Homo sapiens: one gene and its partners. The protein of the gene in region 1 purifies or fractionates together with the protein of each later gene. This does not show direct contact. Each region holds a gene or a part of one and is shown in the gene's direction. Other genes may lie near its edges.

Region 1 (3,500 bases):
CTGATGGACATGGACTAGCTGAGGCTACACAGTCATCCAAACCTGGTAGTGTTATGCTGAGACTTCCAGGCCAGGAGGATCATTCTTCTCAAAACCCCTTAATCATGAGGAGGCGTGTTCGTTCTTTTATCTCTCCCATTCCCAGTAAGAGACAGTCACAAGATGTAAAGAACAGTAGCACTGAAGATAAAGGTCGCCTCCTTCACTCATCAAAAGAAGGCGCTGATAAAGCATTCAATTCCTATGCCCATCTTTCTCACAGTCAGGATATCAAGTCTATCCCTAAGAGAGATTCCTCCAAGGACCTTCCAAGTCCAGATAGTAGAAACTGCCCTGCTGTTACCCTCACAAGCCCTGCTAAGACCAAAATACTGCCCCCACGGAAAGGACGGGGATTGAAATTGGAAGCTATAGTTCAGAAGATTACATCCCCAAATATTAGGAGGAGCGCATCTTCGAACAGTGCGGAGGCTGGGGGAGACACGGTTACGCTTGATGATATACTGTCTTTGAAGAGTGGTCCTCCTGAAGGTGGGAGTGTTGCTGTTCAGGATGCTGACATAGAGAAGAGAAAAGGTGAGGTGGCTTCGGACCTAGTCAGTCCAGCAAACCAGGAGTTGCACGTAGAGAAACCTCTTCCAAGGTCTTCAGAAGAGTGGCGTGGCAGCGTGGATGACAAAGTGAAGACAGAGACACATGCAGAAACAGTTACTGCCGGAAAGGAACCCCCTGGTGCCATGACATCCACAACCTCACAGAAGCCTGGTAGTAACCAAGGGAGACCAGATGGTTCCCTGGGTGGAACAGCACCTTTAATCTTTCCAGACTCAAAGAATGTACCTCCAGTGGGCATATTGGCCCCTGAGGCAAACCCCAAGGCTGAAGAGAAGGAGAACGATACAGTGACGATTTCACCGAAGCAAGAGGGTTTCCCTCCAAAGGGATATTTCCCATCAGGAAAGAAGAAGGGGAGACCCATTGGTAGTGTGAATAAGCAAAAGAAACAGCAGCAGCCACCGCCTCCACCCCCTCAGCCCCCACAGATACCAGAAGGTTCTGCAGATGGAGAGCCAAAGCCAAAAAAACAGAGGCAAAGGAGGGAGAGAAGGAAGCCTGGGGCCCAGCCGAGGAAGCGAAAAACCAAACAAGCAGTTCCCATTGTGGAACCCCAAGAACCTGAGATCAAACTAAAATATGCCACCCAGCCACTGGATAAAACTGATGCCAAGAACAAGTCTTTTTACCCTTACATCCATGTAGTAAATAAGTGTGAACTTGGAGCCGTTTGTACAATCATCAATGCTGAGGAAGAAGAACAGACCAAATTAGTGAGGGGCAGGAAGGGTCAGAGGTCACTGACCCCTCCACCTAGCAGCACTGAAAGCAAGGCGCTCCCGGCCTCGTCCTTTATGCTGCAGGGACCTGTTGTGACAGAGTCTTCGGTTATGGGGCACCTGGTTTGCTGTCTGTGTGGCAAGTGGGCCAGTTACCGGAACATGGGTGACCTCTTTGGACCTTTTTATCCCCAAGATTATGCAGCCACTCTCCCGAAGAATCCACCTCCTAAGAGGGCCACAGAAATGCAGAGCAAAGTTAAGGTACGGCACAAAAGTGCTTCTAATGGCTCCAAGACGGACACTGAGGAGGAGGAAGAGCAGCAGCAGCAGCAGAAGGAGCAGAGAAGCCTGGCCGCACACCCCAGGTTTAAGCGGCGCCACCGCTCGGAAGACTGTGGTGGAGGCCCTCGGTCCCTGTCCAGGGGGCTCCCTTGTAAAAAAGCAGCCACTGAGGGCAGCAGTGAAAAGACTGTTTTGGACTCGAAGCCCTCCGTGCCCACCACTTCAGAAGGTGGCCCTGAGCTGGAGTTACAAATCCCTGAACTACCTCTTGACAGCAATGAATTTTGGGTCCATGAGGGTTGTATTCTCTGGGCCAATGGAATCTACCTGGTTTGTGGCAGGCTCTATGGCCTGCAGGAAGCGCTGGAAATAGCCAGAGAGATGGTGAGTATGAGAAATCTCTTACCAGCTTGGGATTTTTATTTCATTTGGTTCCTTTTCTTGCATGTTTTTGTTCTTACATGTCACATGATTATTCCTCCAAATTAAAGTGCCTATGCCCATGTGATGGACAGAAAATGAAATAGGTAATTTGGAAGATTTGTATAGACTTCTAAAATCGTTTTTCATTTTTTGAAATGTATAATGCTTATGAAGCATATTATTATATTTCAAGTTTCTTGGGCCACATCTTTTCTAACGCACACTTTCCAGTTAGGATATTTATTCTTTGGATCTGTTTCATAACTTATCCTGGGGCAGATCATCAACATCATCATCTTCATTTCTTTCTCTCCTCTATTGAATGTTCTGTTTCCTGAATCCCATTTCTTCCTCATTCTTAAAGTGAGCCTTCATTTAAGGGCGTGCATCATCCTTTAGTAGTTTTGTGAGAAAGGGTGTGTGGGAGTGTAAAAATGTTGAGATCCTATATATCTGAGCATGACTTTATCCTAGCCTCATGCTTAATTGAGAGTTGGCTAGGTGTGGAATTCTAGATTGGAAGTGATTTTTCTCTCACTGTCTTGCAGTCGTTCTTCCTGGTTTGTCCACTAGCTTCCAGTGCTGCAGTTGAGAAGACTGCCATTCTAATTTTTCATCCCTTGATGCATGTTCTGTTTTTCTTCTGGAAAGTTTGAGGATCTTCTCCTTTTCCCTAGGGTCTTGAGATGTCAAAATGATAGGTCTTGACTAGGTCATTTCATGGTTGTGTTGGCTACTCTATGAGATCTTATGTACGCTGATGTCTTTCAGTTCAGGCAATTTGTCATGTGGTAGTTCTTTGAAAATTTCCTTCCCTCTATTTTCTCTGCTCTCTTTATAATTCCTGTTAATATAAGGCATTTTACCTCCTGGATTGATCCGCTGTTTTTATCTTTTCTCCTCTGTTTTATGTTTTATCTCATTATCTTTTTGTTCTGATTTCTCTATGCTTTCTTCAGCTTTATCATCTAATCTTTTTTGTATGTGGGTTTTGTTTTGGTTTTGTTTTGTTTTGTTTTGTTTTGTTGTCACTCAGGCTGGAATGCAGTGGTGCGATCACAGCTTACTGCATTCTCGAACTCTGGGGCTCCCTGGTACCTGGGACTAAAGGTGTGTGCCACCATGCCCAGCTAATATTTATATTTTTTGCAGAAACAAGGTCTCACTGTGTTGCCCAGAGTGGTCTCAAACTGCTGGACTCAAGCAATCCTTCCACTTCGGTCTTCTAAAGTACCAGGATTATAGGCATGTGCCACAAGCCACAGTGCCCAGCCTTCTAGCCTTTTATTTACTTATTTTTTTTCTTGATATTTTGAAGAGCTTTTTTTTTCTCTGAATGTACTGACTTTTAAAGAATAATCAGAGCCTAGTTGATGGCTATAATCGTTTCTCTTGCTTTTTGAATACATTATAACGTATTTTTTGTTTTTGTTTTTGTTTCAGTTTCATGCCCTTACC
Region 2 (3,500 bases), on another chromosome or scaffold:
GCCTTAGTGGCATTGTGGCCTCATTCCTTGATACCTGTTTCTCCTCTTCGCTTGGCTCCCTGAAAGCTGACAAAGAGTACCAAAAAACAGTCTGAGCCACTTTGATCCCTAGCCATAGGGAAAGGAAGGGATGAAGAGAGGCCCTTGTTTCCAGACCTATCTATCATTCTGAAGGAGCAGATGGGCTTGGGAGCTGGGGAATCTGAACTACCACTCCTAATGCCTCTGGTCACATTGATGACTTTGTTCTTGCGCCTACACTTCAGAGTCCAGTGGTTACCGTGGTAATGGGAGTGTATGCCCCAGCCAAGGCATCGCAGACCTTCCCACCTTAGCAGAATATAGTTCTTCCTCTGCTTCTTATGGACTTGGAATTCCCCAACCTCACTAGTAGAGTGGCAATACCCAAACTCCTGTGATTGTTGGGAGAGTTCAGAGTTTCTGAACAAGCAGGTTTCCTTGAAGCCCTGCTTCCCTGGGGAATTGGATCTGAGGCTGCCTTGCCTCTGTGCCTCCACAGCTGGCGATGAAATGCATGAGACCAGAAGATGTGTCAGTGCTATACATCACTCAGGCCCAGGAAATGGAGAAGCAGGGCAAGTACCGTGAGGCTGAAAGGTGAGCCGTGGCCCCAGAGGAGGTGTAGAGGGAGATGAGATTTCAAGGCTGGGACGAGGGATGGGGTCTGAGGATGTGTACCCTCTGCCCAGAAGGCAGTGATAGCAGGGGTCGGGTCTAGGAGGCCCCAGATGTATCTCCTTCCCCAGGCTATATGTGACAGTACAAGAGCCTGATCTTGCCATCACCATGTACAAAAAGCACAAGTTGTATGATGACATGATCCGCCTGGTAGGGAAGCACCATCCAGATCTCCTCAGTGATACACACCTACATCTGGGCAAGGTGAGCCCTTCTCCTGGCTCTCCCTATCTCTTCCCCAACCAGGCTCCATCTCCCCATCTCTCCATCCTGACTCACCTTCCTGCAGGAGCTGGAGGCTGAAGGCCGACTACAGGAGGCTGAGTACCACTACCTCGAGGCCCAGGAATGGAAGGCAACAGTGAACATGTACCGGGCCAGTGGGCTTTGGGAAGAGGCCTACAGGGTAAGGAGTTCAGGCCACACTGAGGGATACATCCATCCTTCTTTCCCACGTTTTTCCTTTTTTTCAGAAAGGGTCTCACTCTGTCACCCAGGCTGGAGTGCAGTGGTGCAATTATGGCTCACTGCAGCCTTGACCTCCTGGGCTTAAGCACTCGATCCTCCCACCTCAACCTCCTGAGTAGCTGGGACTATAGGTGTGCACCACCACAGCTGGCTAATTTTTTAATTTTTTTGTAGAGACAAGTTTTCACCATGTTGCCCAAGCTGGTCTTGAACTCCTGGGCTCAAGCGATCCACCTGCCTTGGCCTCCCAAAGTGTTGGGATTACAGCTATGAGCCACCTTGCCCAGCCCTTCTTTCCCACTTTAAGTGACTAATTCACAATTGGTCAGAGCATCTTTGAAAATGTAGTGAAGATCAGAGTCTCTCTTGCCAGAACCATGTCCACATCTGTATACAGAAAATTTCACTTATAATTTTAAGGGTCTGTGGACCAGGTGAAGCCTATCCTTGGACCCTAAGTACTTTAACCTAAGTTAAGAAACCCTGAAATTTAGCCCTCTTCCTGTTAACTTTTTATTTTATTTTATTTTTTGAGATGGAGTTTCGCTCTGTCACCCAGGCTGAAGTGCAGTGGCACAGTCTTGGCTCACTGCAACCTCCACCTCCCGGGTTCAAGCAATTTTTCTGCCTCAGCCTCCCGAGTAGCTGGGATTACAGGCACTCACCACCGTGCCCAGCTAATTTTTGTATTTTTAGTAGAGATGGGGTTTCACTATGTTGGCCAGGCTGGTCTCGAACTCCTGACCTCAAGTTATCCTCTTGCCTCGGCCTCCCAAAATGCTGGGATTATAGGTATGAGCCACCACACCCAGCCTCTTCCTGTTCAATTTAGAACAGTTACTGGATCCTTGTCAAAGCCGAGGTCAGAGATGAGAAGGGAGAAGCTCTGTATTGCAGGATTATTGAGTGACTTTGCTTTACAGGTGGCCAGAACTCAAGGAGGGGCTAATGCCCACAAACACGTGGCCTATCTGTGGGCAAAGAGCCTGGGAGGAGAGGCTGCAGTTAGACTGCTTAATAAGCTGGGACTCCTGGAAGCTGCTGTTGACCACGCTGCAGACAATTGGTGAGGCCCCAAGCTTTCTCTCCACGGGCCCCATCCCAGCCAGAGCCACTATCTAGAGAAAGAAAATTGATGTATAACTGAAAGAAAGATCCTTGGAAGGACATGATAGAGTGGCATGAATAAATTAACTGCTTCTATTCCCTAGGGGCTCAGAACAGTGTTTAACCTTTGGCTGTTCTAAGAAGGGTGGAGAGGAAACAGATTGTAAAGCTAGGACTGCAGACTGCACTAAACCAATAACTTACTCCTGGGTAATGGAAGTGTGATTCTGTCAAATGCAGAGTGAACTGTTTTTTTTTTTGAGACAGAGTCTCACTCCGTCGCCAGGCTGGAGTGCAGTGGCACGATATCAGCTCACTGCAACCTCCACCTCCTGGTTCAAATGATTCTCCTGCCTCAGCCTCCCGAGTAGCTGGGACTACAGGCATGCACCACCACGCCCATCTAATTTTTGTATTTTTAGTAGGGATGGGGTTTCACCATGTTGGCCAGGATGGTCTTGATCTCTTGACCTCGTGATCTGCCCACCTTGGCCTCCCAAAGTGCTGAGATTACAGGCGTGAGCCACTGCGCCTGGCCGAACTTTTCTTTTTTTTTGGAAGCACCAGAGTCCGTGAAGCATTTTATTTGTAAATATGTATTACATCTCTAGAAAAAGAATCCCAGGATTTTCCCTCCTATATGTTGCTGTCTTGCTTCTTCATGGTCCATGATGCCAACTGAGGTTGTCAGTACAATAAAACCAAACTGGCAGGATGGGAGCAGATTATTCTGCCATTTTTCTTTTTTGTTTTTTTTCTGAGACAGAGTCTCGCTCTGTTGCCCAGGCTGGAGTGCAGTGGTGCAACCTTGGCTCACTGCAAGCTCCGCCTCCCAGGTTCAAGCCATTCTCCTGCCTCAGCCTCCTGAGTAGCTGGGACTACAGGTGCCCGCCACCACGCCCGGCTAATTTTTTTGTACTTTTTTAGTAGAGACAGGGTTTCACCCTGTTAGCCAGGCTGGTCTCAATCTTCTGACCTTGTGATCCACCTGCCTTGGCCTCCCAAAGTGCTGGGATTACAGGCGTGAGCCACCGCGCCCGGCATATTCTGCCATTTTTCTAGATCTCTGATTTGCACATCAAATCTGGGGCTGATCACTCTACACTTGTTTAGCCTGCCTGTGAGGTTCACAGCAATTTTCCTAGCTGTGATCATCAATTATTTCAAAATCGCCAATTTACCATACTTCAGCATCACAATTAGAAACCAGACGATGACTTTGGAGC
Region 3 (3,500 bases), on another chromosome or scaffold:
CTGCTCTGAGTTGATGGCCACTTATTTTATTAGAGTGTTTCATGAAGTTGGGAGGAAGACAAGAAATATGTGCTGGGCAGTTTGCTGTTTCATTCACACTCCCATGGTTAGTTACTATATACTCTGAACAATGTAAATGCAAAAAATTAAAACAAATGTTTCAAAATTCCCCCTAACAATTGGAAATCGTAAATGGTGTTCATGCATCTTGGAACTTGAATCCTAGTCTTCTTAACCTTGACTTTTTCAAGCCGTATGACACAGTAAAGCTGACCTTCATTTGTCTTCTCATCAACCACCTCCCCTTCTTCTTCTTCCTTTTTTTTTTTTTTTAAAATCCTTTTGGGTTCTGAGGAAGACTGGTAAACTGGCCCTCTGCAGTGAAAGTGGGATCATTTGAGTGTATGCTTCAAGTTTTGGTTTTCCTGTCCTGTTGTTTTCCTATATACCTTGGTGCATTCTTTGTTTGATACATTGAGGTTAAGTGGCTATTAAGTTACACAGTGTCCTTAGTATCTACTCTTTGTAGATAATTTACAAAGTATTATAAGAAAGGGATATTCACATTGACAGTGCTTTCATTTTGAACATGGTTGTAAGGTTTTTCTTTGTGTTTTAGTTGTGTCGTTTGTATTTGGTATATGTGACCTGAAATTACTAGCACTGGCGCATTTGTTCATTCTTATTCAATGAATATTTATTGGATGCCCAATATGTTCCAGGCACTGTTATAAGTTCTGGGAATACAGCCTAGTTTATTGTCTCTTGGCAAATAATATGTAATTAACAGTCAACAAGGCTTTATGAACGCCAAGAAAGAACACAAATATATCTTCTCTGCTCCAGAAGAGCTGACTGTCTTGAGATTGGGGGATTGATTATTTTTCAATCACATGATTAAGAAGAAGCCAAACAGAGATAGATAACTTGGAGAGAAATGTGAGCCTGTGGATGGTAAAATGTCACTTGCGAGTAACAGTATCCATAGGCAGAACCTGTGGAGCAAGAAAGTTTGCTAATAAAATTTTGTTTACCCTAACATAGGTTCTTCATGGAGAGCAGTACTTAGAGTTATATAAACCACTTCCCAGAGCAGGTGAGTTATTGATATACTAATTCCATAATACCATACTTTTATTTCCAGATTAACCTTTTAAACAACATCAGTGTGTTAAACTGGTATAGAGTGACCTAATGAAACATATCACAAATTGTTATGCACATGTGAGCCATTAGAGTAGACTGATGTTAACTAGTATCTGTTTTGGTCACCTTAAGCTTTGTCCTTTAATAGTCTTAAAAATTTATTTCATAATTTATCTCTGTTGATGTATGTGTTATTAACAACTGAAAGGAACGTTCGTGTATGTGCTCTAGACTTAGTGATTGCATATAATCTGTTATGGTTCTTATGATTATTGTTCTTTTCTCAGGTATTTATCTTTATACTGATTTTCATAAAGCAAACAATGTTAAAAGATACAGAATTTCTTGTAATTCATTTTTTTCTTTTTTTTTGGAGAAAATAAAAACAAGTCTTTAATAATCATTTTTACTTTTCTCAAAAATATCTTACTTGTTTAGTAAATCTCTTTTAATTTTTTTCACTATAATTGGATATATTTATTTCTCTACTTTGATGTTTGAATGTTGTCTAATTATATACTGGTCATATAAGGTGGTAGAATACAAAAAGGAATGTTTTGTTAATATTTGTCATTTCATGTTATACAATGTAGAGGTCGGCAAGTAGCTAGAATCCTACTTGAATATTTTTCTTAAACCTTTTTATTTTTCTAAAAAATGTATGAGATTTTTATTGCTTGAAGCTGAATAGCTTTATTTCAGTGTAAGTATTATAGCATAAGGTTTCAAAACAGCTCTTTTTATGTGAAACAGTACACTTTGTGGTGATTGTGCATTGATCAAATATCTGCTGGATACCCAGTATTTGCAAGGCACAGTATTAGGTAGTAGGTAATTTTCTAACCTGTCTGTATATCAAAATCACCCGAGTTATTACATTATATTATCTGTTAATTTAAGTAAAATGTAGATTCTCAATCCCAACCTTGGAAATTGTGTGTGTGTGTGTGTGTGTGTGTGTGTGTGTGTGTGTATGTGTGCATGTATGTATGTGGTGGGGTGGTGGTGTTGGTGACAGTGGCTAGGAAGCTCCTTACATGTTTCATATGTACCCAGCCCTATGGGTCCACTTGGAAACCATTGTTATAAGGGAAGTAGAAATGTGCAAGATAGGTTTCTGCCGTTAGGGATTTTAAAATACGAAAAGAGAGATTAGATGTATACTCCAGAGTGATGATAACTGAACAGTGATGTGAATAGGAAGGTGTAGAGAATAACTTTTTCATTTTTTTTTACCTCCTTAGCCTCAAGTTATATTTCTCATGAATTATTTTTTCTCAGCCTGTGCATTTTCTTTAAGCAGTTTTAAAATTTACTGTGTAGTAAATGTGAATGTTCAAAATATGAGATATTTGTGGTTTGGAACCTTTTAAACTGCAGAAAACCAAGGTCACGACTACTGTTTATAATCTACTACTGTTTATAAAACACACCAATTGATGAGACACAGAGTGTCAAGCATCAGGAGACTGATAACAACATCTCTTAATGGCTCATTTGTTGGCTATAGTGGTAGTGTCATAGGCTGACTTACCCTAATCATGTTAAAAATAACCACTAGAAGGAGTGAAGGAACGCAGCAGTACTTTCTTTTCTGTCTGTTTTTTTTTTTTGGTTTTATATAAACTTTATTATTTTAAAAAAGAATTTTAACTTTTATTTTAGATTCAGGAGGTACCTGTGCAGATTTATTACGTGGGTGTATTGTGTGATGCTAAACTTTGGGATATGAATGATCCCATCACTCAGGTAGTGAGCATAGTACCCAATAGGTAGTTTTTCAGTTCTTGCTCTCCCTACTCTAGTAGTCCCCATTGTCTGTTGTTCCCATCTTTATGTCCACGTGTACCCAGAGTTCAGCTCCCACTTGTAAGTGAAAACACACAGTATTTGGTTTTTTGTTCCTGCATTAATTCACTTAGGATAATGACGTCCAACTGTATCCATGTTGCTGCGGAGCACATGATTTTGTTCTTTTTCATGGCTGCGTAGTATTCCATGGTATATATGTACCACATTTTCTTTATCCATTTCACCATTGATGGGCACCTAGATTGATTCCATGTCTTTGCTATTGTGAATAGTGCTGCAGTGAGCATATGAGTGCATATGTCTTTTTGGTGGAATGATTTCTTTTCCTTTGGGTATATATCCAGTAATGAGATTGCTGGGTCAAATGGTAGTTCTGTTTTAAGTTCTTTGAGAAATCTCCAGACTGCTTTTCATGGTAGCTGTACTAATTTACATTCCCTCCAACAGTGTATAAATGTTCTGTTTTATCTGCAGCCTCACCAGCATCTGTTATTTTTTTGACTTTTTAGTAATAGCCATTCTGACTGATGTGACATGGTATC
Region 4 (3,500 bases), on another chromosome or scaffold:
ATAGTGTGGTGTGGAATGAAAACTCCTAGATTCATTAATACCTAACTTGATGCAAATTAAGGAGTTGTGGCTTGATTCCAGAGGAGGCTCTCATTAGGGTGGGACTGTCTTGTTTTTAAAACATGTCTTCCCGTAATAAATATGCTTTATTAGCTGACCTAGGATATGTGGCTATGAGCATACCTGTCCTTACCACATACCATGCAGCCTGCTGGTAAGGGTCCCAGCTATTCAAAATGCTTGTTGCTACAAATTGTATTGATTTTACAGTAACCTACCACATTTCAAAAAACTGCAGTCTGAGACAACCCAGGACCCTGGCTGGGTGTGGTGGTTGAGAGGAACAGGAAAAATAATTGCCCTAAAAGCTGGTTTTAGGGCTAATTAGGAGGTACAGGTTACCTGAGGGAAGGGATGATTAGGGAGAGAACCAAAGCAGTGAGGTGTGGAGCCTGCCACCATCTTAAGAAGTGAGTAGTGACACGTGGTGAGGAGAAAGACCCTTGCAGAACTTCTAGTCTTAGCAAACTAGGTTGAGAAATTCCTTTTCTTTTCTTTCTTTTTTTTTGAGGCAGAGTCTCACTGCGTTGCCCAGGCTGGAGTCCTGTGGCATGATTCTGACTCACTCCAACCTCCACCTCCCGGGTTCAAACAATTCTGTTGCCTCAGCCTCCTGAGTAGCTGGGATTACAGACGCCCACCACCATGCCTGGCTAATTTTTGTATTTTTAGTAGAGACGGGGTTTCACCTTGTTGGCCAGGCTGGTCTTGAACTGCTGACCTCAAGTGATCCACCCACCTCGGCCTCCCAAAGTGCTGGGATTACAGGTGTAAGCCACTGTGCCCAGCCAAAGTTCCTTTTCTTTTTGGAATCTGTTCCCTCCATTGCACCTGAAGGACTCTTGTAAAATGCCGTTCCAGGTCCTCCTCGTGGTCCTTCAGCTCAGTTCATGTCCCTGAGTGGCTTCACAGGGCCTCTGCACCAGGCCCCGAGTGTCTCTCTGGCCTCAGGCTCCTGCTGTCCTACATTTCTTTTGATCCCTTGCAGGGGACTCTGTGGGTCCTGGACCTTGTGTGGACTTTCATTTTCTTTTTTTCTTTTTTTTGAGACGGAGTCTGGCTCTGTCGCCAGGCTGGAGTGCAGTGGTACGATCTCGGCTCACTGCAATCTCTGTTTCCTGCTTCAAGTGATTCTCCTGCCTCAGCCTCCCCAGTAGTTGGGACTATAGGCGAGCACCACCACACCCAGCTAATTTTTGTATTTTTAGTGGAGACAGGGTTTCACCATGTTGGCCAGGATGGTCTCGATCTTCTGACCTTGTGATTTGTCCGCCTCAGCCTCCCAAAGTGCTGGGATTACAGGTGTGAGCCACCACACCCAGCCGTGTGGACTTTCTTATGTTTGGCATGTGCATCCGAAATGTCCCCTTGCCCAACTCTTCTGTAAGCCTGGTCCCCATCTAGGTATGATTCCTCCAGGAAGGGTTCCCTGCCACTCCTGCTCCCTCCCGGATTGTGGATTAGGTACCAAGCCTGAGTGCTTCCTTAGTACCTGCATGGTGTCATCTTTACCTGTCTGTCCACACAGCCAGACTAAGTTCTGAGAGGATCTGGCTGGCTTCTGCCCTGCACAGCACGTGTAGTAGACATCAAATATTTCTTAAGTGGATGATTCAAATCTGGGCTGCTAGTCAATTCTGACATCTCCCAAGTGTGGAGTTGAGTGGATGAGGCTGATGAGGAGGCTGTCTGTGAGGTGACATGGTGGCCTTTCTTTCTCTCTTGAAGGTGATTAGAATGACTGGTTTCATGAAGGGCCTCTACACAGACGCCGAGATGAAGTCTGATAATGTGAAGGTGGGTTTGAGTCGGGCTTCTCCTATTGACTCCTCGCCTTAACGGATGGGATTTTTTGTAGGCCTGGTAGTGTGGCTTGTGTCATTTCTCTGCTGCATGTGGTTGGAATACAAGGTCAGTGAATTCGTAAATTGATATATATACCCTTTCTCATTTCATTTTCTCATTGTGGCAACTGGATGTCATGCTAGTTTTATTCACTGAAAAATGGGATTAGTATTTCAAAGGTTAATGCTAGCCCATCAACTAAATTAAAGGCTTTAATGAATTGTTTTTGTTTTGTCAGTAAAAGGTCAGTATTTCTAGATTTGTTATATATCTAAAAACAGCTTTGTATGTAAACAGAAACTATCCTATGCCTGGTAAACATACAGAAGATAATGCACACTCTTCAAAGTATTGTAATATTTGTATTTTCAATGGAAATGTTTCAGGATAAAGATGCAAAAATTAGCTTCCTACAAAAGGCCATAGACGTGGTTGTAATGGTGTCGGGAGAGCCACTGTTGGCCAAACCAGCCCGAATCGTGGCGGGGCATGAGCCTGAAAGAACAAACGAGCTGCTCCAGATAATTGGAAAATGCTGTCTCAACAAGGTACTACTGCTGTCCTGGCATTTTGAACTTACTTAGTACTTGAGTAAAAAGTAGTCGGGGGTGAGGGACTCACATGTGCGGGCGGTTTAGGGAAGGAGTTTCAGTGGTGTCTGTCAAACACTGTGCTTTGAATCTGATCCCACCCCTTCTGGAGCCCCAGAGATACAGAAGGAGTAATTTAATACTGAATGATAAAACAAATAAGGGTATGTAATACGCAAGTTCTGCAAGCTTTCAGTAGAAAGTCGGGAACCCTGCAGGCACACTGTGCCTGGCTGGAGGCTGGAGGCTGCAGGCCCAGGCTTCCATGCCCTCTGGCTTTCTCCTTTCTGAGGCTCCCTTGAGGACAGGTGGCTGCTTCCAGCCAGGGCTGCAGTGGCTGCAGGAGCTGCTTTTCTTCTTCCCTGGGTCTTATGGGAGTCTCTGTTCTCTTCCTCCATCTCCAGCCTCTGGTGTCTGCTTGCCTGTTGCCCTTCCTCTCTCTCTTCCACCTTTTCTCTCTCTCTCGGTTGCTGTTTCAGTTGTACGGGGAGTAGATTTTTTCTTTCTTGAGCTTTTCACTGTGGGCTAGAAACTTGGGTGTCAAGGCCTCAGGCTTCTCTAGTTAGGTCCAGCCTGGGCCATGTTTGCCCAAATGTTGGAGAAGGTCTTTCCCCAGGGTCTTCCTTCTTTTGAGGGCCGAGTAGTGCCCTGTGGAGGAGCAGGTTGGACTTGTATTGAGAGTGTAATTAATACAGTTTTTCACATACCTAGTGGGTGGTTGGCTGGGGGCTAACCTTAAATGTGACCCAAATGGGAACAGGTAGGTTTCAGCCCCCTCAACAGCAGTGGGTAGTGGAGGTGCATAGTGGTATCAGGCCGACTCCTAGGAGGCCCCCCCAGTGCAGGTCCAGCATGCAAACTTAGAGACTTGGAAGCAGATCTTGCCAGTACACTGGCCTCTGTCCCTAGGCTCCCCAGCTCCCCTTCCCGGGTCCTTTATGTTTCTCATCTTTCTAAAAAGCACATCTGGCTCCTGTCTCCTCTGCTGAATCATCTCCGGCTTCC
Region 5 (3,500 bases), on another chromosome or scaffold:
GTGCACCTGTAATCCCAGATACTCAGGAGGCTGAGGCAGGAGAATTGCTTGAACCCAGGAGGTGGAGGTTGCAGTGAGCTGAGAGCACGCTATTGTACTTCAGCCTGGGTGACAGAGTGAGCCTCCGTCTCAAAATAATACTACTACTAATAATTACATGTTATTTTATGTAAATCCCATTTAGAAATTGGGAACCAGAACTAGAAACCATTTTCTCAAACCCAAAAGGAAATTATGCGGGAATCTGGTGGCTATTTTGTACTGTTTTCCACTTGTACCTTTATTTCTGTGGTGCATGTAGTCTGGCTAGAGAAATCCATTTCATTGGTTATCTCCATGTTTCTTTCTCTCCTCAGATGCAGACAGACATGCTGAACTATCTGGAAGTCCACTGAAAAGCAAAAGCACTAGGAAGCCTTTGGCATGTATCATTGGGTATTTAGGTGGGTATTTTCTAATAGAGGAAAAACTCAAAGAGCAATTTCTGAATAGTATAGATATTTGGCAATTCTAAATGGACATACCTAAACTAATTCAGGCCCTTCAAATAGCCGAAATTGGATACCTTTATATAGTCAGTTTATTTTGTTTCAGAAACTTTTATTACCAGCACACACAACACACACACATACACACACAGATTTATGATATATGTCTACTTTTTCCAAAAAGCCATCGAATAAAAATGTAATATATATTCATGGAAATAAATACAGATTAAGCAAAAAAGAAAATGAAAAGCATTCAGTTAGTACTTAGGATGAATAGTCTTAATATTCTTCTTCAGATCCCTTCCCTGTTTCTAACTCACCTCACCTCTTTTTAAATAGAAGATTTATTTACTTATTAAAATGAGATCAAACTGGTTTATAACTTATCTTAAAATAATTATAGGTTTTAATTTTTTATTTTATTTGTTTTTTGTAGAGACAGGGTCTCGCTTTGTTGCCCAGGCTGGTCTCAAACTCCTGGCCTCAAGCGATCTTCCTGCCTTGACTTCCCAAAGTGCTGGGATTACAGATGTGAGCCACTGCTTCAAGCCTTAAATATTTATAGTTTTGGTGTGCTTTAGGTGACTTTGAAGGGGAGGCATTTGTATTGCTTTCTTATTTTTATCATGCCATCTGACTTGGAAATCTCCAAAGATGATAGCTCCATTTTTATGTTGAAATATCACAATTAAGAATAGTATACAAAATTACTATGCAATAATCTCTTTGTTTAAACAAAGTTTTAAGAGAAATAACTTACAAAATAATGGTTTTTCACATACCTAGAAGCAAGAATGGCATGTTTTTGTGCTTCTCATAGTTCTTTTTCAGTAAAGTGAAATATGTACTCAGAGTTGCTTTGACAGAAAGATTTATAATTATGAAATGTTCAGACTGCAGACATCAACTCTTTTAAAAATCAAAGTGTAGTCTTGAATTTGGTATATTATCTAGTCCTTACCCAAAAGAATGTTCCAGGATTCAGAGGCTCAAAGCTTCTTCTTTGATGTTACTGTACTACCTTATTCCTTGCTTTATTTATTTATTTATTTATTTATTTTATTTATTTATTTTTTTTGAGACGGAATCTCACTCTTCTGTCCAAGCTGGAGTGCAGTGGCGCAATCTCGGCTCACTGCAAGCTCCGCCTCCCAGGTTCACGCCATTCTCCTGCCTCAGCCTCCTGAGTAGGTGGGACTACAGGCATCCGCCACCACGTCCAGCTAATTTTTGTATTTTTAGTAGAGACGGGGTTTCACCTTGTTAGCCAGGAGGGTCTCAATCTCCTGACCTCATGATCCGCCCACCTCGGCCTCCCAGAGTGCTGGGATTACAGGCATGAGCCACTGCGTCCGGCCATTTCTTGCTTTATTTCTCAGGGGTTAAAGAGTTGTTTTGATATCCCCTGAAAATGTCACATGGTTATTGTACACATGACCTACGTAATGGTGGTAATGTCCTTGAAGAGTGCGGTCTGTATTCCCTTGCAGAACTGTCTCCAGATGCCCCTTCCCACCTTGCATGGGAAAGTTTCTGATCACAAAAAATAGAATAGGCCGGGCATGGTGGCTCATGCCTGTAATCCCAGTACTTTGAGAGGCAGGCGGATTGCTTGAGTCCAGGAGTTTGAGCCTGGGTAACATAGCAAAACCCTGTCTCTACCAAAAATACAAATATTAGGCAGGTGTGGTGGTGCGTGCCTGTGGTCCCAACTACTCAGGAGACTGAGGTGGGAGGATTGACCGCTTGAGCCCAGGAGGCAGAGGTTGCAGTGAGCCAAGATTGTGCCACCACACTCCAGTCCAAGTGACCAATTGAGACCCTGTCTCAAAAAAAAAAAAAAAAAAAAAAAGAAAAGAAAAGAAAAAAAGAATATAACATTATTAGCCTTTCCAAGAATAATTGTGTGCTCCTACTGTGGGCAAATTGGTCTCTATATCTACCAGATAGGCCCAGACTGTGCTGTTCTTACCAGCTGAACCACATCCCTACACAATATATTTATGAGTATTTATATGTTGAAAACACTGTACTAAGTGATTTGGGGAACACCAAGATGGGTAAGACCTTGCCCTCAAAATTCTTAGTGTAGTGGGGAAAGCAAGCAGGTAAGAACAATAAAACAAAGGATTAGATCCTGTAAAATAATTACAGGTAATATGCGTTGGGCACTTGGAGGAAGGACTGTTCTTTTTCTTTTTCTTTTTCTTTTTTTTTTTTTTTGAGATAGAGTCTCACTCTGTCACCCAGGCTGGAATACAATGTCTCCATCTTGGCTCACTGCAACCTCCACTTCCCAGGCTCAGGTGATCCTCCCACTTAAGCCTCCTGAATGGCTGGGACTACAGGTGTGCACCACCACACTTGGCTAATTTTTAAAAATTTTTGTAGAGACAGGGTTTCACCATGTTGCTCAGGCTGGTCTCGAACTCCTGGACTCATGCAGTCTGCCCACCTTGGCCTCCCAAAGTACTGGGATTACGGATGTGAGCCACTGCACCTGGCCAATGAGGGAATTTTTTCTAATGAGCGTTAGGGCAGCCTACCTGAAGAAAGTAATAGTTAATTTCAGCCTTAAAAGATATTTAGGATTCGAATAGGTAGAAAAATAGGAAAAGCGTATTCTCTTCCCTCATAAGGCCAAGACAACCAGATGAACAAAGGCTTCAGTGAGTCCAAGGACTTGAAAGCAGCTTGTTTGGTCTAGATGGAGCATAGACTGTGGAGGTTAAATGAAATGCAAGGCTGGCAAACTTGTCATGTCATGTTGGAGAAAAAAAAATCACTTTTTTCGGTGGTAGTATTTAAGCCATTTCTAAATTTTGGCAAGTGTGGGACTTTGACCAGAGCTGTAGTAATTCTAACAATTCCAATGGCTTTTCCTAAATTCCAGTAAATAAGGGTGATATCTCAGCCCTTACCTTCAGTGAAAGGGTGAGAAGGCAGGGTGGCTTGTGTGTAGTTGGCCAGCTGCATGATGACTCTGAGAATCAGTGAGCTGCTAAGCTT
Region 6 (4,247 bases), on another chromosome or scaffold:
TTACTTAATTTCTCTGTTAGAATAACTCAGTCTCATATTGCCACCTGGAGTATCAGCCCATTATTAAATGGTCCATCTGTGCCTAGAAATTACCATTCTCACTACAATTCTGTCCGTGTAAAAAGAGCAAGGCTAAGGAACCAAATTTTGTCATTTGATATTACAGGTGTTACTGTTAATTGAGTGCACATTCTTGAAATTTCACATATAACTAGCAGATCTGCAAAGTTGTTATAGTCAGTGTATTTTTTTAGAGTATGAATTAACAAGTTTAAACATTAAGAGGTAAGCCTGTCTACTTTCCAGTAGCCTCAAAGGATACATTTTCTTTACGATTGTTTCAGAACACTTCATGAAACAAATGTCAAACTTGTCAGGGCTGTCACTAAGAAAATGATCCATGTAGCCAGGGTCTTCTTTCATTGGGAAACAAACAGATGTCTTATCTCAGCAGAGAGAAAAAAAAAAACCCTCCTGTATATCAGAAGAAATTTTTGCTTACCTATAATATCCAGTAGTAAAGAAATGCTTTGGTAAAAAGCTTCCTTTGCAATTTTATTTATTATGCAGTCATTTATCAATTATATTTTATTTGCTGTCTGAGTTACTTTAATGATTTTTATTAATCTGGAACTGCGTATAAATTCTTACAAAAATTGACCTGCAATGTGAAAAACATAAATTAGCATTTCCAAAAAGACTTCCCTAGAGCTTTATTAGATCAAATTTTAATGTTATTTATGATAAAATCTATTACTGTTATTTTGATAATGTTATAGCAATTTTAATATTATACTCTAGCAATTAGAGTGGAATGCCTTTTTCACCCCTTCATAATGCTTTTCTGCACCTAGGTTACAGCTATCCTTCTAAAAGGAAGAAAGAGATTGGCTCTTATTTGTTATATAAGTGACTTAACAGCATAAAAGGCAAGATGTTTTAAGACAAATCCTCAGCACAAAGAAAGGTGTGAAACAGTTATGTACCTGTCCTGAACAGCAGGCAGTGTTAGAAGGCATGCATTTATAAACTGTACTTTATTTCTAAGAAAAATTCAACAACAAAAAGACAAACATTATATTAAGAATGTTACTTAACTGGCATATCTATATATATCTTATCCATATATTTAAAACATATTCAAATTAATGGAAGTTGCAAATTTTTATTTCATTTAACCATGTTCCAATAGCTTATATCCATAGTTAAATATGAAAATAAAGTATATAAGTACCTCCTAGTCCTTGGGGTTATTAAGTCTTTACATTTGTGTTTTGACTTAGAGCAGCAAGGTTGCTAGAGAAAACTAGATAGCCAAGCATGTTAAACCGGGAAGTCATACGGTGGAGAAACTTAGTAGACTGTCCGTGTGATAAAGGCTCCATCTTTCTTTTATAAATTAAAGGGTATGAGCTTGATAATGGCTGTTTTGGCTCATGTTGCTTCAAACATTTTTGCTTATTTTTATTTTCACTGTTGTTATATAGTAAGTTAAGATTGCTAGAAGTGTGAGTACTAGCAATCTTAATTTACGATAGTTAAGAACAATATTGTGCTTTTCCAAATTATGTATTAATTCAGGCATACCTTTTATTCGTTCATTATTCCACTGTTTCACATAGTTCAGAAAATATTGATTGGACTACAACTATATACTAAGTATGTCCTGTTAGATGGTAGGAATGTATAAGATACAGAAGATAAAACCTTCCTTTGAGGAACAGATGGACAAATTCAGTGCTACATATCAAAAATTTCTTGCCATCCGTACCTGCTGATTTAACACTTTCTAACAGTGTCTCTCCTGAAGAAGACAGGGGAAAGTGTAGAGTAAGATTTACTTTTTATTATAATGTAGTTAAAATGTAATCTCTAGGCTGGGCGCAGTGGCTCACGCCTGTAATCCCGGCACTTTGGGAGGCTGAGGCGGGGCAGATCACGAGGTCAGGAGATCGAGACCATCCTGGCTAACACGGTGAAACCCCGTCTCTACTAAAAATACAAAAAATTAGCCGGGCGTGGTGGTGGGTGCCTGTCCCAGCTACTCGGGAGGCTGAGGCAGGAGAATGGCGTGAACCTGGGAGGCGGAGCTTGCAGTGAGCAGAGATCGCGCCACTGCACTCCAGCCTGGGCGAAAGAGTCCGTCTCAAAAAAAAAAAAAAAGAAATGTCATCTGTAGGAACTTTTTTCTAAAAGTGGAAAACACATGTTCATTAATAAATTTTCAAGAATCAAACTTAATGTATCTATTCACTGGAGATAAAATAAGGAAAAAATGAAATGACAAACAGTGGCTATCATACTTGGAAAAATATATCAAAGTTACATTGCCAAAATGATATTCAAAACCCCATTCCTGGTGTTCTACATATCTATAATGATTCAGATTGGTTGATAATATTGATAATTTCTCTACTTTCCCAGTGTTAACAAAGTCTAAATCACAGATTCCGTTGAGTTTAGAGAAACAAAGTATATAAAAAAGCTTTTTTCACCCGCCTTAATCATTACTGGCAAGTATGTAGTTTGTCATAGAAAACAAATATGCATACCTTGGTTTGCTTTTACTTTATAAAGTCAATTCACAAAGTAGAGTTCAACAATTATTTAATTCAATGATTTAATTTGGTTTCATCAGATACAGAGATAGAGTGGTATGTTTGATGATATTGATGATTATTACTGTTGTCTAGAAATACTTAAATTGATGTTTATGCTTTAATTAACTCAGAAGAGTACCTTTATGTCAGTTAATAAAAATAAATAATCTTAAATGATAAATCAGAAATATTAGGAAAGCAAGACTGTTTTGTACTTGGGTGTGTTGAAAGAACATGTATGATGAGATGGGTTACAAATTGTAAGATGAAATATTTTTCCAGACTCTCATTGCTTATACTTTGAAGGTTACCATTTAATACTGAACACAAGATGCACTTCATTTCTATGAAAGCAGACATTATGATGTCATTTCATCTATTCACCATGTTCCACAGGAACCTGCTATGAATTATGAGGCCACCACTTAGAATTGAAACTGTAGAAGATTGTAAGCATTCTAAGCCGACATGCACATGCTTCCTATTTTAGACCTCACTGATCTTCAGATAACATATGGTGGTACAAGTAATTGGAAAATTGGCACACCTGTCAAGAAAGTATACTAGATGGGGCAAAAAAATGCCATGCTGGAGCACATGAAGTGTCTTAGCAATTAAATTTATTGTTTTTTGTCAAGCAGTGAAGTAAAAATATCTAGCTCATCCCCTGCAAAGAACACTTTTCAGTGGCAGGTGTTTCCAAAGTAATTTTTAGGGCATTGTTAAAATTGGTTGCTTTTAAAAACATACAGAAAATTTTAATGTGTTCTATAAAACAGCACCTATTGCAAATATTTAAATGTTACATAATTTTACCATTTGTGTTTAGGATTATTAGAATCACAGTAGTTCATAGTTCTACAGATGCAGTTAAAATCTGTCAAGTATAGCTGATAAATGCTCTAAAGTTTATATTTTAATGTTTTCTAAAATTTATTTCACAGGAAGATGAAAATGAAGCTGAAAGAAAAAATATATCTCAGGAGCTCAACATGGAACAGAAAAATCCAAAGAAATAAAAGATTTTCTGTAGTGTTTTTGAAAAGTTTGCAGCTTATGTAATAGCAGATAAAATTTCTAATTGTAAAATGTTAAATTGTAAAATCTAATTTGCAAAATGTTCTCAATAAAGTCATTCAAAATGAAATAGGAGCTTGTATTTGGAATTCGTATATTTTAGAGTAATTTCGACTTTTTTATTCAAAAGCTGGACCTTTAAAAGTTTTTAAAAGGAGAAAAATTCTTAACTCAAATTTGAGAACAGAGACAGAATGTTATTTTTTTTGTAACCTAACTGTTAACACATTTAAATGACCTAAAAAAAAAACCTCTGAAAGTCTTTTTTCTTCTTACTAGACTCTGTGTTCTTCTTTAAGGGCCTTAACATAATTTTGATTATCAATATAAAGAAAAACCAACATAGTTCAAAAATGAACAGGGAATGCTTGCACATGAAAATGGTTAAAACCAGTCAATGCCACAAGGAGAAATACTGTTTCCTGATTTCATCTATTTATATATTACACGATACTCTAGGACTGCAGGGAAAGACTAAAAAGAAATGATAATTTGACGGTCTCTGGCAGAAGTAATGCCATGATTTATAATTTATAAAACATTTACTAAGGACCTGCTGTGTGCAAGGTC
Region 7 (3,500 bases), on another chromosome or scaffold:
ATGCAGATCTCACTATGACTACCAAGGACTTCTTGTAGAATTTTGGTATCTCTTTATAGTGCATAAAGCTTAATACTGTTTTATTTTGTGAGTAATTATCCAGAAAGTGTAAGTATCCACTGTCTCTTAACTTTTTGTCATTTATGATTGTTCTTTTAACCTTCCCAATAGTAAACTATGTAACAAAAGAAAAAAAATCTATGTAATCATTAAAAAGAAGGACTTTAATATGTATCTGGAAATATTTTAGTGAAATAAATACGGAGAAAGTGTTTACTTCCTATTTTACTTTTTCTCCCCAATTTTTTCTTCCATCTATAGGTGTGACAGATCAATTGTCAATAAATCAAGGCAGACTGCACTGGACATTGCTGTATTTTGGGGTTATAAGCATATAGCTAATTTACTAGCTACTGCTAAAGGTGGGAAGAAGCCTTGGTTCCTAACGAATGAAGTGGAAGAATGTGAAAATTATTTTAGCAAAACACTACTGGACCGGAAAAGTGAAAAGAGAAATAATTCTGACTGGCTGCTAGCTAAAGAAAGCCATCCAGCCACAGTTTTTATTCTTTTCTCAGATTTAAATCCCTTGGTTACTCTAGGTGGCAATAAAGAAAGTTTCCAACAGCCAGAAGTTAGGCTTTGTCAGCTGAACTACACAGATATAAAGGATTATTTGGCCCAGCCTGAGAAGATCACCTTGATTTTTCTTGGAGTAGAACTTGAAATAAAAGACAAACTACTTAATTATGCTGGTGAAGTCCCGAGAGAGGAGGAAGATGGATTGGTTGCCTGGTTTGCTCTAGGTATAGATCCTATTGCTGCTGAAGAATTCAAGCAAAGACATGAAAATTGTTACTTTCTTCATCCTCCTATGCCAGCCCTTCTGCAATTGAAAGAAAAAGAAGCTGGTAAGAAATGAATGCTGCTTTTCATTGGTAAAATCTGGTTTTTAGACTTGAGTTGGAGTTGTATGTATTTGCACTTTCCAGGGGCACTCTTTTTCCAGTAAGCAGTGAAATTAGACTGTCTTCATCAGAAACTTCTTAAAGTTCTCACCCTAGGGGACTACTCTCCTGGGCAGTTAGTAGTTCTAATCAGCCCAGACTGATTTCCTGAGAATTAACCCTGGTGCATGATGATCTCATTTGATTCTTCATTGAATAATTCTTAGTTCCTGCTACACGTAGAACATGATGGCAAAGACTTTGACTGTTTTGTTTTGTATTCTGTTGATGGGGCTTTTTATGGCATGGTAAGAAATTGGGGTTTGATTCTAAAGCCATTTAAATGTAACCTAACCTGTGTTTAAAATATTTTTTTAAAAAAGACACTGCACACTGGCTGCATCATAGAGCATAAATTGTACACATGTAAGTAAGTAAGTGTGAAAGTTGGGAGTCTTGTTAAGAGGGAATTGAGTATTACAGGTGCCCAAGTAAGAGATTGCAATGGCTTGAGTTAGAATGGAGGCAGTGGAGATGGAGACAAAGGGAGAATCTGAGGTATTCTCGAGGTAGAAGGGATAGGGCTTGATCTGTAGGTTGAGACCCTTATAAGTGAGAGATGGTGGTAATATGGCATGAATTAAGGTACTGATAGTAGAAATGGAGGAAAGAGGGTATATGCAAGATAAAGTTTGGAGAGAAAATCACTGGTCTTTGCTATTGAATTGGATATGGGATATATAATAATGAAGGAAAAGATTAAGAATGACTGCTAGGCTAGAGACTTTAATAATTTGGTATATAGTGATACCATTTCTCAATAATATAGGATGATGGTTAGAGCAAGGAAAGCAGGACAGACTTGGATTAAAAAAATCAAGAGTTTACTTTTGGGCATACTAAGTTTTAGAAATGGACATTACAATCAGATGTCTGAACTGGAAATACCCATATGGCAGTCATCAACACACAGATACTTAAATCCCAAAAAACTACTGAGATTACTTGGAGAGTTGAGAGGAAGCAAGAAAAACTCAGAATAAGACCTGAATCCCCCTAAATTTAAAGGTAAGCTGCAAGCAGGAGAGCCATCAAAGGAGTTGGAAACAGTGTGGCCATGAGGTAGGAAGAGAGCAAGAGGCCTCAGGGAAACCAAGACAGCAGAGTATTTCCAGGAGGGAGTGGTCAAATGTATTGAATGCTGTTATGAACTTGAGTAAGATGAAGGCAAAGTGGTTTTTTTGTTTTGTTTTGTTTTTTAAAGCATCTTTGTCTTTGGTAATATGAAGCTATTGATGAACTTGACAAGAGAAACGTCAGTGGAGTGAAACGAACAGAAACCAGATTATGGTAGACTGATGAGTTACTGGGAAGTTAGGAATAGGTCACTTGTCAGTGACCACCTTCCCTTAGGTGATAGAGGTCCTTCCAGAGACTGCTTAAATATCTCCTCCTCAAAGTCTGGTGTGGTATGTTTTATTCTCCACACCTGTGGAGAAATCATCAAACTTTTTTAAGAAAATTTATTTTCTTTAGACATATATATATATATATATATATATCATTTTAAGATCAAAAAGATCTGATAAATGAGCTAGTTGCTTGCTTTTTTCCCTTGTAGGAAAACTGAGGCCTTTTAACTCACTTGCTCTATAAGTTTACACAGTTACTTAACTTTTCTGTGACTCAGTTTACTCCTAAAGAAAATGATAATAATAGTATCTATCTTCTTTAGGGTTGCTCTAAACATTAAATAATCTATATAAAATTCCTTGCATGGTGCTTGGCACATTGTAAGTACTCAATAAATGTTAGCTTTTCTTATTGTGATGATTCTGAAATAATGTAAATACCCTAGTGTAAGTTACATATTACAAGGTTACGTAGCAGGCAAAAACGTAATGTTGTCTATTCATTACAACTGTTTTATTTATTTTTCCCAGTTTAAACGATGTTAGAATTTTTGTTATTATTTTGTTCATTTCAAAAATCTGTAGACCAAATAATCTATTTTAGGGAGGGTAACTTTGTCAAGCATTTAACATATAGCATTTCTAGTCTTATTGCCTCAACTGTAATATTTCTGGCCAGGCCATATTAACTTTTTTTGAACTACCAGAGTAAAACCTATAGCTAAAGTGTATATATTTTAAGATTTATCCTATTAGGCATTTTTTGGTAAACAAAGTTAACCATGAATGTAGTAAATGCAGTGTGTTTTATACTGTGTACATGCAGTCTCCAGTTGAAAACAGGTTGTGTTCCACATGGCTTGGACCATCAATGGCATAGTCACCAAGAGAGTGGTGATAGCCTCCTACAGTTTCCTAGTAATATTTCCTTTAGAGTACAAATCTCACTTAAGAACTGACTTTGTGGTATATTTTTATTAAAATCACTATTGTAAAATCACTGTTTGTAAACTTACTCTACACTAGAATCATGAATACCCCAAATTTTAAAATCACCTACAGTAAAAGCCTGATCTAATATAGGATGTAAGATAGATGTCAGTATGTCTATCTTATATGAAAGTTATATTTTATTCAAACA

Evidence for each region.
Region 2: the proteins of TCF20 (region 1) and IFT172 purify together in Homo sapiens (affinity purification with mass spectrometry, with the first as the bait; one large-scale study listed by BioGRID). This does not show direct contact.
Region 3: the proteins of TCF20 (region 1) and HSD17B4 purify together in Homo sapiens (affinity purification with mass spectrometry, with the first as the bait; one large-scale study listed by BioGRID). This does not show direct contact.
Region 4: the proteins of TCF20 (region 1) and TRAF3IP1 purify together in Homo sapiens (affinity purification with mass spectrometry, with the first as the bait; one large-scale study listed by BioGRID). This does not show direct contact.
Region 5: the proteins of TCF20 (region 1) and MTA3 purify together in Homo sapiens (affinity purification with mass spectrometry, with the first as the bait; one large-scale study listed by BioGRID). This does not show direct contact.
Region 6: the proteins of TCF20 (region 1) and PHF14 purify together in Homo sapiens (affinity purification with mass spectrometry; one large-scale study listed by BioGRID and IntAct). This does not show direct contact.
Region 7: the proteins of TCF20 (region 1) and NUDT12 purify together in Homo sapiens (affinity purification with mass spectrometry, with the first as the bait; one large-scale study listed by BioGRID). This does not show direct contact.

The regions. Positions count from the first base shown.
Region 1 is NC_000022.11:42,208,154-42,211,653, reverse strand, and holds part of TCF20 (transcription factor 20), read left to right. Parts: coding exon 1-2,003; intron 2,004-3,500. UniProt on the Homo sapiens protein: Transcriptional activator that binds to the regulatory region of MMP3 and thereby controls stromelysin expression. It stimulates the activity of various transcriptional activators such as JUN, SP1, PAX6 and ETS1, suggesting a function as a coactivator.
Region 2 is NC_000002.12:27,455,244-27,458,743, reverse strand, and holds part of IFT172 (intraflagellar transport protein 172 homolog), read left to right. Parts: intron 1-520; coding exon 521-618; intron 619-767; coding exon 768-903; intron 904-988; coding exon 989-1,105; intron 1,106-2,090; coding exon 2,091-2,233; intron 2,234-3,500. UniProt on the Homo sapiens protein: Required for the maintenance and formation of cilia. Plays an indirect role in hedgehog (Hh) signaling, cilia being required for all activity of the hedgehog pathway.
Region 3 is NC_000005.10:119,500,997-119,504,496, forward strand, and holds part of HSD17B4 (peroxisomal multifunctional enzyme type 2), read left to right. Parts: intron 1-1,044; coding exon 1,045-1,096; intron 1,097-3,500. UniProt on the Homo sapiens protein: Bifunctional enzyme acting on the peroxisomal fatty acid beta-oxidation pathway.
Region 4 is NC_000002.12:238,323,518-238,327,017, forward strand, and holds part of TRAF3IP1 (TRAF3-interacting protein 1), read left to right. Parts: intron 1-1,788; coding exon 1,789-1,857; intron 1,858-2,291; coding exon 2,292-2,453; intron 2,454-3,500.
Region 5 is NC_000002.12:42,718,632-42,722,131, forward strand, and holds part of MTA3 (metastasis-associated protein MTA3), read left to right. Parts: intron 1-356; coding exon 357-443; intron 444-3,500. UniProt on the Homo sapiens protein: Acts as a component of the histone deacetylase NuRD complex which participates in the remodeling of chromatin.
Region 6 is NC_000007.14:11,165,872-11,170,118, forward strand, and holds the end of PHF14 (PHD finger protein 14), read left to right. Parts: intron 1-3,544; coding exon 3,545-3,619; 3' UTR 3,620-3,747; downstream 3,748-4,247. UniProt on the Homo sapiens protein: Histone-binding protein. Binds preferentially to unmodified histone H3 but can also bind to a lesser extent to histone H3 trimethylated at 'Lys-9' (H3K9me3) as well as to histone H3 monomethylated at 'Lys-27' (H3K27ac) and trimethylated at 'Lys-27' (H3K27me3).
Region 7 is NC_000005.10:103,556,290-103,559,789, reverse strand, and holds part of NUDT12 (NAD-capped RNA hydrolase NUDT12), read left to right. Parts: intron 1-321; coding exon 322-911; intron 912-3,500. UniProt on the Homo sapiens protein: mRNA decapping enzyme that specifically removes the nicotinamide adenine dinucleotide (NAD) cap from a subset of mRNAs by hydrolyzing the diphosphate linkage to produce nicotinamide mononucleotide (NMN) and 5' monophosphate mRNA.